2 linked regions of the Homo sapiens genome follow. The protein of the gene in region 1 interacts with the protein of each later gene in a biochemical or structural test. Each region holds a gene or a part of one and is shown on either strand. Other genes may lie near its edges.

Evidence for each region. The genes of interacting proteins can lie anywhere in the genome.
Region 2: the proteins of INTS11 (region 1) and NSMF form a complex in vitro, tested with the Homo sapiens proteins (one study listed by BioGRID).

The regions. Positions count from the first base shown.
Region 1 is NC_000001.11:1,314,659-1,321,674, forward strand, and holds part of INTS11 (integrator complex subunit 11), read right to left. Parts: intron 6,436-7,016; coding exon 6,338-6,435; intron 5,872-6,337; coding exon 5,798-5,871; intron 4,867-5,797; coding exon 4,638-4,866; intron 961-4,637; coding exon 862-960; intron 781-861; coding exon 746-780; intron 305-745; coding exon 166-304; intron 1-165.
Region 2 is NC_000009.12:137,456,328-137,464,322, forward strand, and holds the start of NSMF (NMDA receptor synaptonuclear signaling and neuronal migration factor), read right to left. Parts: upstream 3,008-7,995; 5' UTR 2,776-3,007; coding exon 2,705-2,775; intron 2,223-2,704; coding exon 2,161-2,222; intron 1,575-2,160; coding exon 1,080-1,574; intron 160-1,079; coding exon 84-159; intron 1-83. Other genes in the region: PNPLA7 (patatin-like phospholipase domain-containing protein 7), read right to left, coding at 4,066-4,149, 4,307-4,410, 5,209-5,293, 5,604-5,714, 5,852-6,004, 6,358-6,506, 7,088-7,204, 7,799-7,868. UniProt on the Homo sapiens protein: Couples NMDA-sensitive glutamate receptor signaling to the nucleus and triggers long-lasting changes in the cytoarchitecture of dendrites and spine synapse processes. Part of the cAMP response element-binding protein (CREB) shut-off signaling pathway.

The DNA of each region.
Region 1 (7,016 bases):
TCTGAGTTTTCCTCCTCAATGTTGAGCAAATCTTCTTCCCTCCCTGCCTGAAAATGCAGTACCCCCCACCCTGAGACCCTGACCCATGCCAAGGGCAGCCAAGCCTGCCAGAAAGACCAGCCCAGCATGGCCGAGGGCCCATGTCCCCACCCCTGCTGCAGCTACCTTCCCACCACGCTCCACGGTCTCGTGGACTTTCTTCAGGAAGTCTCGCTCCCGGCAGCGCTTGGAGTCACGGATGGTCGTGGCGTACGTGGACTCTGTGATGAGCAGGTTGGGGCGGCACTTGTCAATCCAGGCAGCTCTGGAACACGGGGGTGGGGGTGTGAGCCACGATGCACTGTCCCCACGGTTGCAGGGCTGGGTGTGACAAGCTGGACCCCAGTACCACGCCCAGCCGCCTTCCTAGGTCACTCTGGCTGGAAAGAGCCAGCTGGTAAAATGCTGTGGGCAGCACACTTGGGAAGAGAGAGGAGAGACAGAGGCACCCACCCAGACACTTCGGAAGAGCGAGACAGAGGCACCCACCCAGAGACTTGGGAAGAGAGAGAAGGAGGGACAGAGGCCCCTGCCTGGACCCTGTGCCTTCGCGCATTTGGGCCCAGAACGAAGGGGGCTCTCCAGGCCGCACAGGACATGGGAGACACTGCCAGGCTGGCCACTCAAGGGCTGGCACCCTGACACCTGCAAGGGTCCTGAGCTCCAGGGGGGCCCACGGGACAAAAAGACACCTCAGCCTACTTACCCTAAGTGTCGGTCTGGGGTCATGTTATAATCACCCTGGTGAACGATCAAGGATGCCATGAGGAGGGTGCCTCCCACCCCAGCAGCCCCTCCCAAGCCTCAAGCCCTTCCACTGACCGTGTAGACCACAGACTCTGAGCCCACTTTAATCTGGAACATGGCTGCCCCCAGCACGTGGCCTGCATAGTAGGCCTTGATCTCCAGCTCATCATCTACCTGTGGAGGACAGGGCTGCGCTCAGGCTGTGTCCTCACAGCAGAGGGGCGGGGAGTGAGGGAGGCGGGGGACGGGAAGCGCGGGAGGCGGGGGTGGGGAGCGTGGGGGAAGGGGAGCGAGGGGGCGGGGGCGGGAGCGAGGGAGGTGGGGGCGGGGAGGGAGGGAGGGAGGCGGGCAGCGAGGGAGGCAGGGGCAGGGAGTGAGGGGGGCGGGGGCAGGGAGGGAGGCGGGGCGGGGAGCGAGGGCACTGCACTGAGCTTTTCAGTCCCTGTTGCTCACACACAGCATCCAGTTCACAAGGGACGGGCAACGTGGACAAAGAACGAAAGACAACGGACAAAAAACTGAAGGGACCTGAAATTGGAGTTTCCAGCGTGGACTTTGAATACATGACAGAGAAAAGACAAGGTTCAGAATGTTGGCGGCCAGGCCTAAGGTGGATCCCTTGGGGTCAGGAATTGGAGACCAGCCTGGCCAACATGGTGAAACCCCGTCTCTACTAAAAATACAAAAGTAAGCCAGGTGTGGAAGTGCGTGCCTGTAATCCCAACTGCTCAGGAGGCTGAGGCAGGAGAATCGCTTGAACCTGGGAAGTGGAGGTTGCAGTGTACTGAGATCACGCCACTGCACTCTAGCCTGGGCAATGGGGCGGGACTCCATCTCGGTAAAAACAAACAAAAAAATACTGGGCTGGGCACAGTGGCTCACACCTTTAATCCCAGCACTTGGGGAGACCAAGGTGGGCAGATCATCTGAAGTCAGGAGTTCAAGACCATCCTGGCCGACACGGTGAAACCCTGTCTCTACTAAAAATACAAAAGTTAGCTGGGCATGGTGGTGGGTGCTTGTAATCCCAGCTACTCAGTAGGCTAAGGCAGAATTACTTGAACCCGGGAGGCGGAGATTGCAGTGAGCTGAGATTGTGCCATTGCACTCCAGCCTGGGCAACAAGAGCGAGAGTGTCAAAAACAAAAATTGGCAAAAAACTAGACTTCTTTTAAATTTAATTTATTCATTTAAAACTTGCCGGGTGCGGTGGCTCATGCCTGTAATCCCAGCACTTTGGGAGGCTGAGGCGGGTGGATCACCTGAGGTTGGGAATTCAAGACCAGCCTGACCAACACGGAAAAAGCCCGTCTCTACTAAAAATACAAAATTAGCCGGATGTGGTGGTGTGCGCCTGTAATCCCAGCTACTCGGGAGGCTGAGGCAGGAGAACTGCTTGAACCCGGGAGGCGGAGGTTGCAGTAAGCCGAGATCGCGCCACTGCACTCCAGCCTGGGCGACAGAGCGAGACTGTGTCTCAAAAAAAAATAAATAAATAAAATTGAGAGACAGGGTGGGGCTGTCACCCAGGCTGCAGTGGCGCAATCATGGCTCACTCAAACTCCTGGGCTCAAGCGTCCTCCCGCCTCCACCTCCGCCTCCCAAATAGCTGGGACTATAGGCACGCACCCACCACGCCAGGCTAATTTAAAAACAAAATTTTGGCCAGGCGCAGTGGCTCACTCTTGTAATCCCAGCACTCTGGGAGACCAAGGCGGGTGGATCACCTGAGATCAGGAGTTCAAGACCAGCCTGACCAACATGGTGAAACCCCCGTCTCTACTAAAAAAAAATACAAAATTAACTGGGTGTGGTGGCACACGCCTGTAATCCCAGCTACTCGGGAGGCTGAGGCAGGAGAATCGCTTGAACCCAGAAGGCGGAGGTTCAAGGTGAGCTGAGATCGCACCACTGCACTACAGCCTGGGCAATGAGAGCGAAACTCCATCTCAAAAAAAAAAGAAAAAAAAAAAGAATTCAACAGATGAATTTAACACCATATGACACATAACCAGAAGAGAATCCATGAACTGAAAGACACCAGAGGGAATATCCATCAGGAAACAGGAAAGACAAACAGATGACGGAGTTTCAAGAGGTTGAACGTCAGGCTCTCGGGGTCCCTGGAGGAGCAGGAACGGGGCAGAAACAACACTGGAAGAAACATGATGAAGGCCTCAAGCCACAGATCCAAGAGGCCTCAAACTCTAAACAGGCTGAGGATACATGTCAGCCCATCAGAGCACAAGCACCAAAAACCAAGGCTCCTGCTCAGACCCTACGGCTGCCCATGCCCAGAGACAGAACGTTGTTTGCAAAGTGCAGAGACAAAATACTGTCAACCTAAAATCTTACACACCTAAGGGAAAAAAAGTCCTTTAAGAACGAGGATAAAGTAAATCCATTTGCAGGCAAATAAATTTTTTTTTTTTGAGCCGGAGTCTCGCGTCTCGCTCTGTCTCCCAGGCTGGAGTGCAGTGGTGGGATCTTGGCTCACTGCAAGCTCCGCCTCCCAGGTTCACGCCATTCTCCTGCCTTTCAGCCTCCCGAGTAGCTGGGACTGCAGGCGCCCGCACCACGCCCAGCTAATTTTTTTGTATTTTGTTTAGTAGAGACAGGGTTTCACCGTGTTAGCCAGGATGGTCTCGATCTCCTGACCTCGTGATCCGCCTGTCTCGGCCTCCCAAAGTGCTGGGATTACAGGCGTGAGCCACCGCGCCTGGCCAAGGCAAATAAAAATTGACAGAATTCAGCACCAGCAGACCCACACTCATATTCTTCAGGCAGAAGGCAAATTATCCCAAGTAAAAAGTAGAAAAAATGCAGGAAGCCCAACAAAAAGGATAAATATATAAATAAAACTAAGCAAATGTTGGTGTTACCAGGCATTAGAAATGATGTCTTTCTGGGTTTAAAATGTACTGAGGGAGTTGCCAGGTGTGGTGACTCATGCCTGTAATCCGAGCACTTTGAGAGGCTGAGGTGGGAGGATCCCTGGAGCCCAGCCCAGGAGTTCGAGAGCCTTAGCAACACATACCCATCTCTACAAAAAATACCAAAATAAATTAGCTGGGCGTATGGGCACATGCTTGTAGTCCCAGCTACTTGGGAGGCCGAGGTGGGAGATCACCTCAACCCGGGAGGCCGAGGCTGCAGTGAGCCAAGATCACACTCCAGCCTGGGTAACAAAGTGAGACACTGTCAAAAAAAAAAAAAAATTAAAGTTTCACAACAAAAAAGATAAACATACTTCATTTTGACAAGTTCAATCAGAAAATTAAATGTTCCAAAATACATAGGTACCTAATATAGTTTCAAGAAATATAAAAGCAATACCCAGAGATTCGAGTGAGACACAGACAAACCCATAATCTTTGTCAGAAATGGAATTTCACCTGTCACTCGCTGATTTAACCTTCACTTCTTCCCTGACCCACACCCAGAACCAGGCACCCTCCAGAGCTGGCCCATCTCCCCTCCAGCCCCTGCCTCCCTGCCCGGCAACACCCCGGGAGCTCCAGCGAGTCTCTGGCCGCTCCAAGCGCTCTGAGGGCACCAGCCTGTCCCACTCTGGCCATTTCAATGCCGCTCGGACAGAGCCTGGTGGGTTCATAAGCCGGTGCATACCCCCACCCTGCACGTGCTCTCCCGGGTCGGCGCCCAGTCTGGTCTGGGACCCGCATCCTCGCGCTGACGCCTCCTGGTGTCCCCACGGTGCTGGACGCAAGAGTGAGGTGGGGTGGGCTCACCCTGAGGCCCCAGCCTTCCAGAAACTGTGTAGAACGGGCGGAGGGCATGGTTGGTGTGGGGGTGGGCAGTGACTGTGCCAGCTGTGGCCCTGGGAACCTGACCTGGACCGTCTGGTGGAGGTGGACAGCCACCACCTTCTTCATGCAGTCTTTGATCATCTGGGAGGTGAAGAAGTTGGCCTCGCCCTTCTTGTCTACGGCGATCTTGCGGTAGTCCTCCAGCAAGATGGGGCAGATGGCCTGGGTGGGGTGAGTCATGTAGATGGGCCCGTCGTAGCCCACCATCTCGCTGAAGTAGGGGAGTGCCCCGCAGTGGTCCAGGTGGAAGTGGCTAGGGGGACGCAGCACAGGTCAGCCTGGGCCCACCCTGCCCCAGCCTTCACCCCCGCTCTGGGCTTGTGGGTCACTGGCCCCTTCATTCGCCTGCTGTGCGCCAGGCCTCATCCCGAGTACCGAAGAGTCAGTAATGAGCAAACACAAAACTGTCTCCCTGGAACTTTCAGTCTCAAAGTCTAGCAAGGCAATAAGCAAACGGGAAATTGAACACGTCGGTGACGGCGACATGCTCGCGAGACAATGCAAAGCTGCTGAGGGAACCGCGCATAGGGGAGCCGCTGGCTTTTCAGGCAGTCAGGACAGGCTGAGTGGAGCTGCAGGTGAAGGTGGCACAGACCTGAGGGCAAGGGCAGCGCCTGGCAAGCCCCAGGAAGGCACTGGGGACCCCACCGTGTCTGAGAAGAAACCACAACCACGAGGGGCTCAGGGGCAGCTGAGGACACTGCCTCCGGAGAGGAGAAGGGGCTTCTCCAGGCTTCACGGGCCTGGCTGCTGGGGAGGACAGGGCAGGGAAGGGCAGGGGGCCAGCAGGAGTGCTGTGGCCGTCCAGACGAGGCCACCCAGACCAGCGGGTCATGAGCTGCTGAACCCTAAAGGCTGGGGTCAGGGCAGACTCGGGACTCTGGAATCGCCAACAAGACAGTGGGGTTTAAAGATCCTGAGACAGTGAAGGCATCAGAGAGGGTGAAGCCTGGAGGGCCGGGTTCAGAAAGTAGGGTTCAGAGGGCAGGGCCGGAAGAACAGACAGAGACCAGGCCATGTGTGTGACCAGTAAGGCAGGCAGGGAGCAGATCCTGGGGCCTAGAAGCCCCCTGAGGATCAAGGATGGCACAGGCCCCTTGCCAAACGCTGCCGAGACCAAGCAAGGTGGCCCAAGCCCCACAGGCACAGACATGGGACCCTCAAGGCCCCCAACAGGAACCCACCTAATGATCACACAGTCCAGGAAGTCTGTTAGGCGGCCGTTCTGGGTGATGTAGGAGAAGTCAGGGAAGCGTCGCTAGGAAGGATGTGGGGGTTTCAGGTTGCACAGTGGTCTCCAGGCAGCATCTGGGGCCACCCATGCCCCAGGGAGGGGCCCCCAGGAAGGGGGGTTCTATGTGCAGACTCAGGCTGGGCACTCCCATCCCGCAGGTGGCACCAGGACCCCTGGCTGCTCACAGCATCCGGAGGGGCCGAGGTTACCCCCAACCTCACTGACAGATGTGAGCTGGAAGCTGAGCCCAGGGTCTCACGGAGTCCAGCCTACAGGACCCCGGGGCTGGGGCTCAGCGCCAGCACAGGGGGACCCCACCATGCAGGGGCTCACCTCGGCCAGGCCCACCCATCCCTGCTCCCCACAGGGTGCAGCCATCCAAGCACAACCACTGCTGCCCACCACCCCACTGTCCCGGCTCTGAGGCCCAGGGTCCAGCTGTGGATGGCCGGCTCTCCCAGCCTCTGGGCCTCCTGCCCAAGGGACTCACGTCGTCATTGAAGCCCATGTGCATTCCACAGTCCAGCATGACATTCTTGCCCGCAATGGAGACCAGGATGCAGCTTCGGCCCACGTCCTGGCCGGCCCCTACTCGAGGGAGGGCAGATGAGTCACTGCTGCGCCCCCCGCCCCCTGTGCTGCCTCCCCAAGCTCTGCAGGACCCCAGTGCACTGAGGAAACCGGACCAAGTCTGCTGTGTGGACAGACACATGGGCCAAGAAGCAGGGCCACCCCTACTCACAGGAAGGGGGACACAGGGGACCATGCCCCACACCATCATGTCCAGGGTGGAGGCTGGCAGCCCACACGCCCTCCCCCGCCAGCTTCCCCTGGCCTCTTAAGGTGGCCACGGCCTGCTGGCTAAGTAGTGGGCACTGTGCTGTGGCCCTCAGCCTCCAACAGAGACAACGGCTGGTCTGTGGGGCCAACACCTCGGTCAGAGTCACTCCTGGGCTGTGGCTGGACCCCCAGCAGAGCTGCAAACCAATGAGGCCACCTTCTCCAGGATCTTTCCCCAGGCAGGCAAGGCAGTAAGTGACTAAGTGCTGGCACTGGGTGTTCTCTGGTGGTGCGGCTGTGGAGGGGCGCCACACAGCCTCAGCCATGCCATAGCGAACACGGTGCCAGTGGTCCAGCAGTGGCCAGCGTGGCAACACGAGCCTCACACC
Region 2 (7,995 bases), on another chromosome or scaffold:
AGAGACTGGGAAAAAGTGCTGTTTCCTGAGCAGCAGAAAGAGACCACCCAACCCTGACCCCAAGTCGTGGGCACAAGACTCACGCTTGCATAGTTGTGGTTGCTGTCTGGAAGCTGAAAAGATTTTCCTTGGGGAACCAGGTACGAATAGGGATGTCGTCTAAGAGAGACAAAAAGGAGCGGTGGCTGGGTGAAGTAGGGGTTCCTGAAGCCTCTCCCTCCCTGTTGGGAAGCAGATGCTTCTGGGTCCAGGGGTCAGCAGAAGCTGGCAGCCAGGGCGGGTGGGGGGAGGGTGGCATCCCCACACGGGCACAGAGGGCAGTGCTCGAATGTCTGCTGCTCACTCACCAAGACCACGCTCTTGGTAACTTGACGCTTTGATTTTTTTGGCTTAACTTTCCCTTTGGCCACCCAAAGTTTGAGAAACATTCCTTTGAAAGCACAGTCTGTCTCCAGGAGGCCCAGGAAAACAATGCGTCTGTTTCCCTTGGGCAGAAGAGGCTCTGAGGCCTTCTCTGCAGCCCCCATGCTCTAGCTGGAGGCCCTCACCGAGGCTAGAGACCACCTTGCTGAGGGCTGTCCCCTTCCGAGGGCCCCCACAGCCTTTCCCTGATGCCCAAGTGTGGGGACAGTGGAGTGACTTTCTGCCTGGTGGACAAGCTACCACACAACTCAACAACCCTGGGGAAAGATGCCCACTGCCTGGCTGGGCCCCAACAGCTCCCCAGGACTCTCGGAGGGCAGCCCAGTCTCCTGATTAAGCGGTGCTTCCTCCCTACATATCCCTTAAGATCCTCCCAGGCCCCCTCCTCCAGGAAGCACTCCTTGATTGACCTGGTGCTAGCAGGGCGAAAGCGGACTGTGAGGCCTGGCAGATTTTGCTGAGGAGCTGAGGGAGCTCACAGCTCATAGGGTGTGGAGGCCGCAGCAGAAGCCTGCCGGTTTTAATCTTGAGTCCGCTGGCATGCTGTGACCTGAGCACCTGTTCTCTGTTCCAAGCCTCACAGTGGCTGCTGCTGTCAGACCCTGGCAGCGGCATGCACCCCCAAACCTGTCTATGCCCTGACACAAACCCCTCACCAGACACACGGTCAACGCTGTACATCCTCTCCAGCTTCTTGCGGCGACCGGAGGTCTCAGGCAGAGGTGGCTGGTCCAGCCCAAAGGCCCGAGGGGTGGGGCCAGGAGCCAGCTGGGCACATCCGGGGCACTCCTTGGAGCCCTGGCGGCTGCCCGCCCAGCTCTGGCAGGGCCTGCTGACGTCCTCCCGGCTGCCACCAGGGCTGGCGCGCAGGGGCTGGCTGTGATGGTGAGGGTGCCGCTGCCGCCGCCCCTTCACCACCGCCAGCTCAATGGCCTCCGCCTCAGGGCTGGGCAGCAGGGCAGGCTCCCCAGAGATGGTGTACACTCGAGGCTGAGGGCCCTCGCCTGCGGGCTTCCTAATGCTGGGCTCCTCTGAGAGGCTGCCCTCGTAGCAGCCGTTGGAGACGAGGGACAGGCGGCGCTTGTTCTGGGGGGCCGGCTGCATCTCGGGGGACCCGTCGTGGCCAGAGTAGGCATCAGCCAGCAGGTGATCTAGGAGAGACACTGAGTGAGCCTGCCTGCCGCGTGTGGGCCCCCCGCTGCCGGTTTCATAGCAGGCCGAAGGCAGAGAACACCCAGTGGGCACCTGGCCTCTGTGGGGGACTAGGGCTGCCCAAACCCTAGTCACTGGCGTGTTTCTGAGCCCCTCACTCCTATCTGGGCCTGAAGCTCTAGCATGTGCGTGGGGGCTGGGTGACGCTGTGCTACCTGTGTGCGGTCCTGCCGGGTAGGAACACGCAGGCCATCCCCCAGCCTGCGATCGCACCGTTTGCCTGGTGCCAACTTCCCCCTCCCCCCACCAGCTGGCCCCCAGAGGCAGTGGTGCCAGCCCTGGGGGAGCCAGGAGGCCTGTTGCCATGCCAACGGCCCAGGCGGGGTGGGTGCCATGGTGACGAGCGGCTGGGAACTGCTCCTGGGGCTCGGGCAGGGAGGGCAGGGGATGTAAGGAAGCCAGGCCGGCAGGGCGCCGGGCCCACGCGCAACCAATGCCCCTCACGCTCCACCCCCGGAGGCAGGGATCAGCATCCCTTGGGCTGGGGGGTCTGGGCGGCCCTGGCACGGCCTCGCGTGCCCCTACCTGCGCCGTTGCGGTTCTCAGGGTGACTCTGGGACAGGTACTCTCCAAACGCTCGGGCTGCTCTGAGGGTGGACAGAGGGCACGGTCAGAGGCCACGGCACGACCCTCCCAAACACCGGGCCGCGCAAGAGCCGGGGGTCCGGTCCCCAGCCAGGCCCTCGGCGTCTGGAAGGAGGGTCGGGGTCGTCCCCCTCCGGGAGCCCACACACCCTTGGTCCTGGTGCGCCCTGGCCAGGCCTGCAGGCCCGGCCCCTGCCCGTCGGACCGTGGAGAGGGGTCGCGAGGCCGGTCGGCTGCTGTTCCCCGGGGGAACCGAGGCCACTCCCGACCTGGGGGGTGCGCTCGCCCACCACGCGCTCGCGAGGGGAGGGGAGGGAAGAGCAGGGCAGGGGACCAGGAAGAGGGAGGCGCGGGGCGCGGGGAGGGCGCCTCAGTGGCAGAGGCCGGGGCCCGGGAGCCCGGGGAGCACCGCGGGGCAGGGGCGGACTCGGGCGGGGTCGGAGGTCCAGGGCGGGGTGCGGGAAGGCGGCCCCGCCGCACTCACCGCACTTTGGCCGCCACCGAGGACATGGCCTCGCTCCTCAGCGCCCTCCTCCTGGAGGCGGCGGCGCCCATGGTCGAGGCGGCGGCGCATCCCCCGGGCCTCAGAGCGCGCCCCGCGCCCGCCGCCTCCGCCGGGGTAGCCGCGCCGCACCGGGGGTCGCGCTCGGGCTCGGGCTCGGGGTCTCGCTCGGGCTCCGGCTCGGGCTTGGGCTCGGGGTCGGGCTCGGGGTCGGGCCCGGTCCCCGCATGGCCGCACCCGGCGCTCCGCGCGTGCCGCCGCTCCCGGGAGAGCGCTGCCCGAACCGAGGGCCGGCCCCGCCCATCGTGACGTCAGGGCCCGGGCGGGCCCAGAGGGGCGGTCGGCCCCACCTACCGTGACGTCAGGGCCCCGGAGAGCTCGGAGAGGACATGTGGCCCCGCCCACCGTGACGTCCGGGCCCGGGTTGAGTTGGGGGCGGGGCCGGGCGGCCTGGCTCCGCGCCCTCTCGTCCAGGCCTCCAGAGCGGGGAAACTGAGGCCAGCGGCCCCCTGGTCGCAAAGTCCTGGGCCCTCGGCCCTCACGATCTGCTGCTCAGACCTGCAGGATCACAGGGAGGCCGGTTCTCCCTCCCCTTACACAAAAGGGCTCCCTGTGCAGTTTGGGAACTGGAAACCGAAGGGGAAGCCAGTTTAGGGGGCACCCAGTTTGCACGAGGCCAGAGAGAGACAGAGGGGCCCGTCCTGGTCCTGGGGGGCCACAGCTCTATGCAGACTCTGGACGCCCTACCTGCCTGGCCTGCATTTGCCGCCCTAGGGCTCTCAGGCCCCAGCAGTGGGGTCCTTTGAGGAGGACTGGGGACTGCCCAGCCTCAGGGACCACCCGCATCAGGGAGAACCAGTAGTGTTTCTTTGCCACAGGGACCTCGGCCCGGGAGACACGTCCAACAGTGAGATCCACCTTTATTGAAACATCACACGGCAGCATCAGGGCTCCCACACCTCACAGGGCAGCAGGCAGTTCACAGGACAGCAGGCAGTTCACAGGGCTTTGGGGGCCTCACAGGGCAGCAGGTGGTTCACAGGGCTTCGGGGGGCCTCACAGGGCTTCGGGGGGCCTCACAGGGCTGCAGGGGGTTCACAGAGCTTCAGGGGCCTCACAGAGCTTCAGGGGCCTCACAGGACTGCAGGGGGGCTCACAGGGCCCTGTATGCAGGGCTGCTGGTACAAAGAAGAGGCCCAGAGAACCCTAACACAGCCTGGGGCCCCGGGGAAGTCAGGGCTTCCAGCAGGGCAGGTACAGAGGCCCCTAGGACTTGGCAGGAGCCTCAGCCTTGGGGACAGTCCCACGGAAGACGCTGCATCCGGGCTCTTTAGCAGAGGCCTCTACCCGTCCTGGTCAGAGGAGCCCTCAGACAGTTTTGGGAAAGCCAGACTGGGGTGTCGATGCCGCAGTGAGGACTCGTCCTCCTGCAAGCAGACCGCATGTTCCAGGTGAGGACCAGGCAGGGCAGGGGCTCTGCAGCGCTGGTAACCCGGTGGGACCACAGGGAGGGAGTGGCCGGCACAGGGCCAGGCACCAAGGCTCAGCTGTGGGCACCAGGTGGGACCATGCCCAGCTCCTCACCAAGTCTGAGCCCTGCTGGGCTGAGGTGCTCTGGAAGTCTGCGTATGCATCCCTGGGGACGTCCAGCAGCTCCTCCTCGTACTCCGTCTGGTAGTCAGATTCGTCTGGCACCGAGGGTAGGGCTGCGTCAGTCCCCTCCCAAGGAAGGGACCGTACCCAGCATAGCCACACTCAGAGGCAGAACCGGCCACAGATGCCCACCCCCGCCTCCAAGGTGGCCCGGGGCCCTACACGCAGCCACCTGGTCCCAGGGCAGCCCTGCACACCACCCCTGGTTCTGTCTGGCTCCAGCTTTGCCCCAGCACATCACTTCGTGGGTCTTCCACAAGGACAAGGAGCGGGCAGACACTCCTCCCCTTGTCAGCCAAGCACCCTGAGGGCTCCAGCACCCCAGACCTGGCAACTGTGGATAGGGGCTGCCTTGCCCAGGGCCCTCTCGGCCTGCGGCAGCCATGAAGACGTCTCCCAGGAGAATGTCCAGTTCTGCTGTGAGGAGGCCACTGGCTGAAGGCCCAAGCGCAGGGCCCTGGATGGAGCATGGAGGGTAGTGGACCCGCCCTTCTTGTCCTGCGGCCCCTCCAACAAGCAGCCTTCATTCCCATTTCCCACTGGGTGGGGTGGGAGGCAAAACGTGGTTCTACTTCAGGCCTGAGGTGTGGCTGGGAGTTGAGGTGAATGAAGGGCAGGGGCTGGGTGACCCGGGGTGGTCACAGTCCCACTGCTGTGGGAACACGTGGTGCCCGGGACGGAGGAGTGCCACCAAGCACCCCAGCTGCTGGAGCCTGGGCGTGGACGTGGGCGGGAGGGGAGGCCGTGGGCCTCTGGGGTGGGGGGGTTCAAGCCCAACACAGCATCAGGAGGTCACGCACGTCTCCACGGCTTCGTCTTGCGCCTCCACTCACCATCCACCATGGCGGGCTTGGCGGGCTCAATGCGAGACACAATTTCGGCAAGGTCCGTGAAGGAGGCGTTGGGACAGGTGAGGACCTAGGGGTGGGGTGAGGACAGCACGTTGCCTGTGGACACCCGCCTGCCAGTCCCCAGCCTGCTTCCTGTGGGGAGGCCCCACCCACCCTGCGCCCTCTCTGCAGCCTCCGCCTGCCCCCCAAGTAAGGGCAGGGACCGGGGAGATGCGCAGTCCTGAGCAATCCTTGTCCTGGCCCTGGAGTCTTTGGCCAGGGGGGCAGGGCCTGTGGCCTGAGGAGCTGGGCGTGGCCTGATGAACTGGGCGTGGGCGTGGCCCGAAGAACTGGGCGCGGTCCGGGGAGCTGGGCGTGGTCCGGACGCCCGTACTCACCGCACTCGCGGGCTTCTTGCTCGGCCCCTGCTGGTCGCGGAGCATCTTCTCCAGCACGCCGCTGCGGCCCCAGATGTCAAACACCGTGCGCCCGTGCTGGTAGCCCACTTCCTGTGCACACCCCCAGGGCCCCGTCAGGAGGTGTGGGGAGCCCCCCACTTCCTGTGTTCTCAAAAGGGGGAAGCGAGGAGGGGCAGCCACCAGAGTGCCTCCGCCCGCCTCCGCCGCCGCGGGTGGCCGGCACTCACGCAGATCTCGTTGAACTTGCCGAAGTCCAGGGTGCTGTAGCTGTCGATGGGGGGGCGCAGGTACTCGCAGTAGTCACTGCTCTTCACCACCTCCAGCTGCCGCACGCAACACACGTAGGCCAGGCGCGTCTGAATCTCTGCCATGTTCAACACCTGCTGCCGTCACAGCCGCCTGAGTCTCCTGCCCCGGCCCCTACCCCGTCCCAGCCTGGCCCGTGGCGCAGGACAGGTTCTGGGGACCCATCCTCTGGGGTAGGTAGGTTCTGGGGGGAGAGGGTAGCAGCACCCGGCCGGGGGTCCTCCCTGCGGGCTGCCACAGCCTTCAGGCCCGTCCGGCCTCGTGCCTTCCTTCGCCCGAGTTGGGCTCAGGCAGGGGTGGTGAGGGGTGGCCCCAGACCTGCTGGCCTCAGAGCCCAGGAGCGACCCCCACTCCCCTGCCGCAGGACAGGTGTGGAGCTGCAGGGAGGAGCAGCAGGGACAGCCCAGCCTGCCCGGTAGCACCCCACCTTGACTTTCGTGGCCAAGGGGTTCCAGCGTTTCCACAGCAGCCACCACCCAGACAGCGCATCCCCATAGTTGGTGAGGTCCGTCTCATCTCGGCTGCCCACGTCAATGGCGATCACCACTTTTGCCCCCATGGACCGGGCCACATCCGCTAGGGAGAAGCCAGCCCTGGTTACCCCCTGGACAGGCATGCAGAGCCAGGGGACGGGGGCAGAGCCTGCCTCTCCGAGCCCTGACGTGGGGGTTGTGGGGTCTCCTCTCCGCCATTACACCTTCTAGAGGCAGAAGACCCACATGCCCAGCTCGATGGGCAGCTGTGGGCACACGGCTGTGTCCTGGGCCTTTCTGACCGTATATCCCACAGGTGACAGGAGTGGCCTGGCCTGGCCCCCAGCAAGCTCGACACCTGCAGGCTGTTAGTTTCTGACTGTGGGCACAGATGGGGCTTAATTGCTCCCAGTTCCTCGACTTGGCCTTTGTTCTGCATGCTGCTGAGCTGACAAACAGGGCCATATGCTGGAGCACATGCTGCCGGTGCCTGCGTGTGCATGTACACGCGTGTGCATGTTCTCGGAGCTCTGATGCCAGCCTGACATTTTCCCTTGGCATACTCTAAGGAAAACGTGTTCCAGCCCAGGCTTCTTGGAGCGGAGGCAGCTGTGGCAGGGGCCGTGGGGCGGCGTGACCCAGGAGCCTGTGCTCCTGCCGGGCGTGGTCCCCCCACCGCAGTACCTGGGAGGTTGTTGATGTAGCCCCCGTCCATCAGCAGGTGTCCGTCCTTCGGGTCACAGAGAGGGGGCATGTAACCGGACAGGGACATGCTGGCACGCACGTACCACCACAGGGAGCCTGGGGAGGGGGCCCGGAGCTGCTGGTTACCCGGAGGAGGCTCCTCCTGGGTCCAGGGTTCAGGGCCTTGCCACTGCAGTCCTGGAGCTGGTAGGTCCCAACTCTCTGAGGCCGCCTCCACAGAGGGAAGCTCATGGCCCAAGGGCTGAACAAAATTGAGTTCTTTCTCTGGGGTCGCACTGCATTACATGTGCCCAGGACTTCGAACTGCTGTGACCCCCTCACCCCAGGACTGAGGGAGCCCCTCACCCCATGACCGAGTGAACCCCTCATCCCCCTGAACCAGGTGAGCCCCTCACCCCAGGACTCAGGGAGCCCCTCACTTTGTCCTCTCACATGGTATCCATCAGTCTAGCCCAACATTGCTGATTCTGTGAGGGTCTCCTCCAGCCTTCTGAGGTCTCTGGCCCAGGCCACGCCCCCTCCTGTCTGTGCCCCTAGTAGGGGCATCCTGTGTCCTCCATGGACAAAGCTGCCCATACGTCTGCATCCTTCAGGAGACCCCGCGGCCTTCCCAACCCCTGGGGCTGCTGAGCTCTCCCCCTGCCCACACCTCGCACCCAAGCGGCCGCCCTGCGCAGCAGGAGTGCTCACCGTCGGTGTGGACCCGCATGGCCGAGGCTGTGATGTCGGTGGTGATGGCGAAATAAGGAATCCACAGGTCCTGCGGGCGGACGGGGCTCAGATGGGCCCTCTCCCATCACGCTCCTGTCCTGTGTCTGGGGAGGCTGACCCAGGGCCAAGAGGTGGGGGGCCAGGAGGGGACAGGCACTGGGGGCTGCATGGGCTCC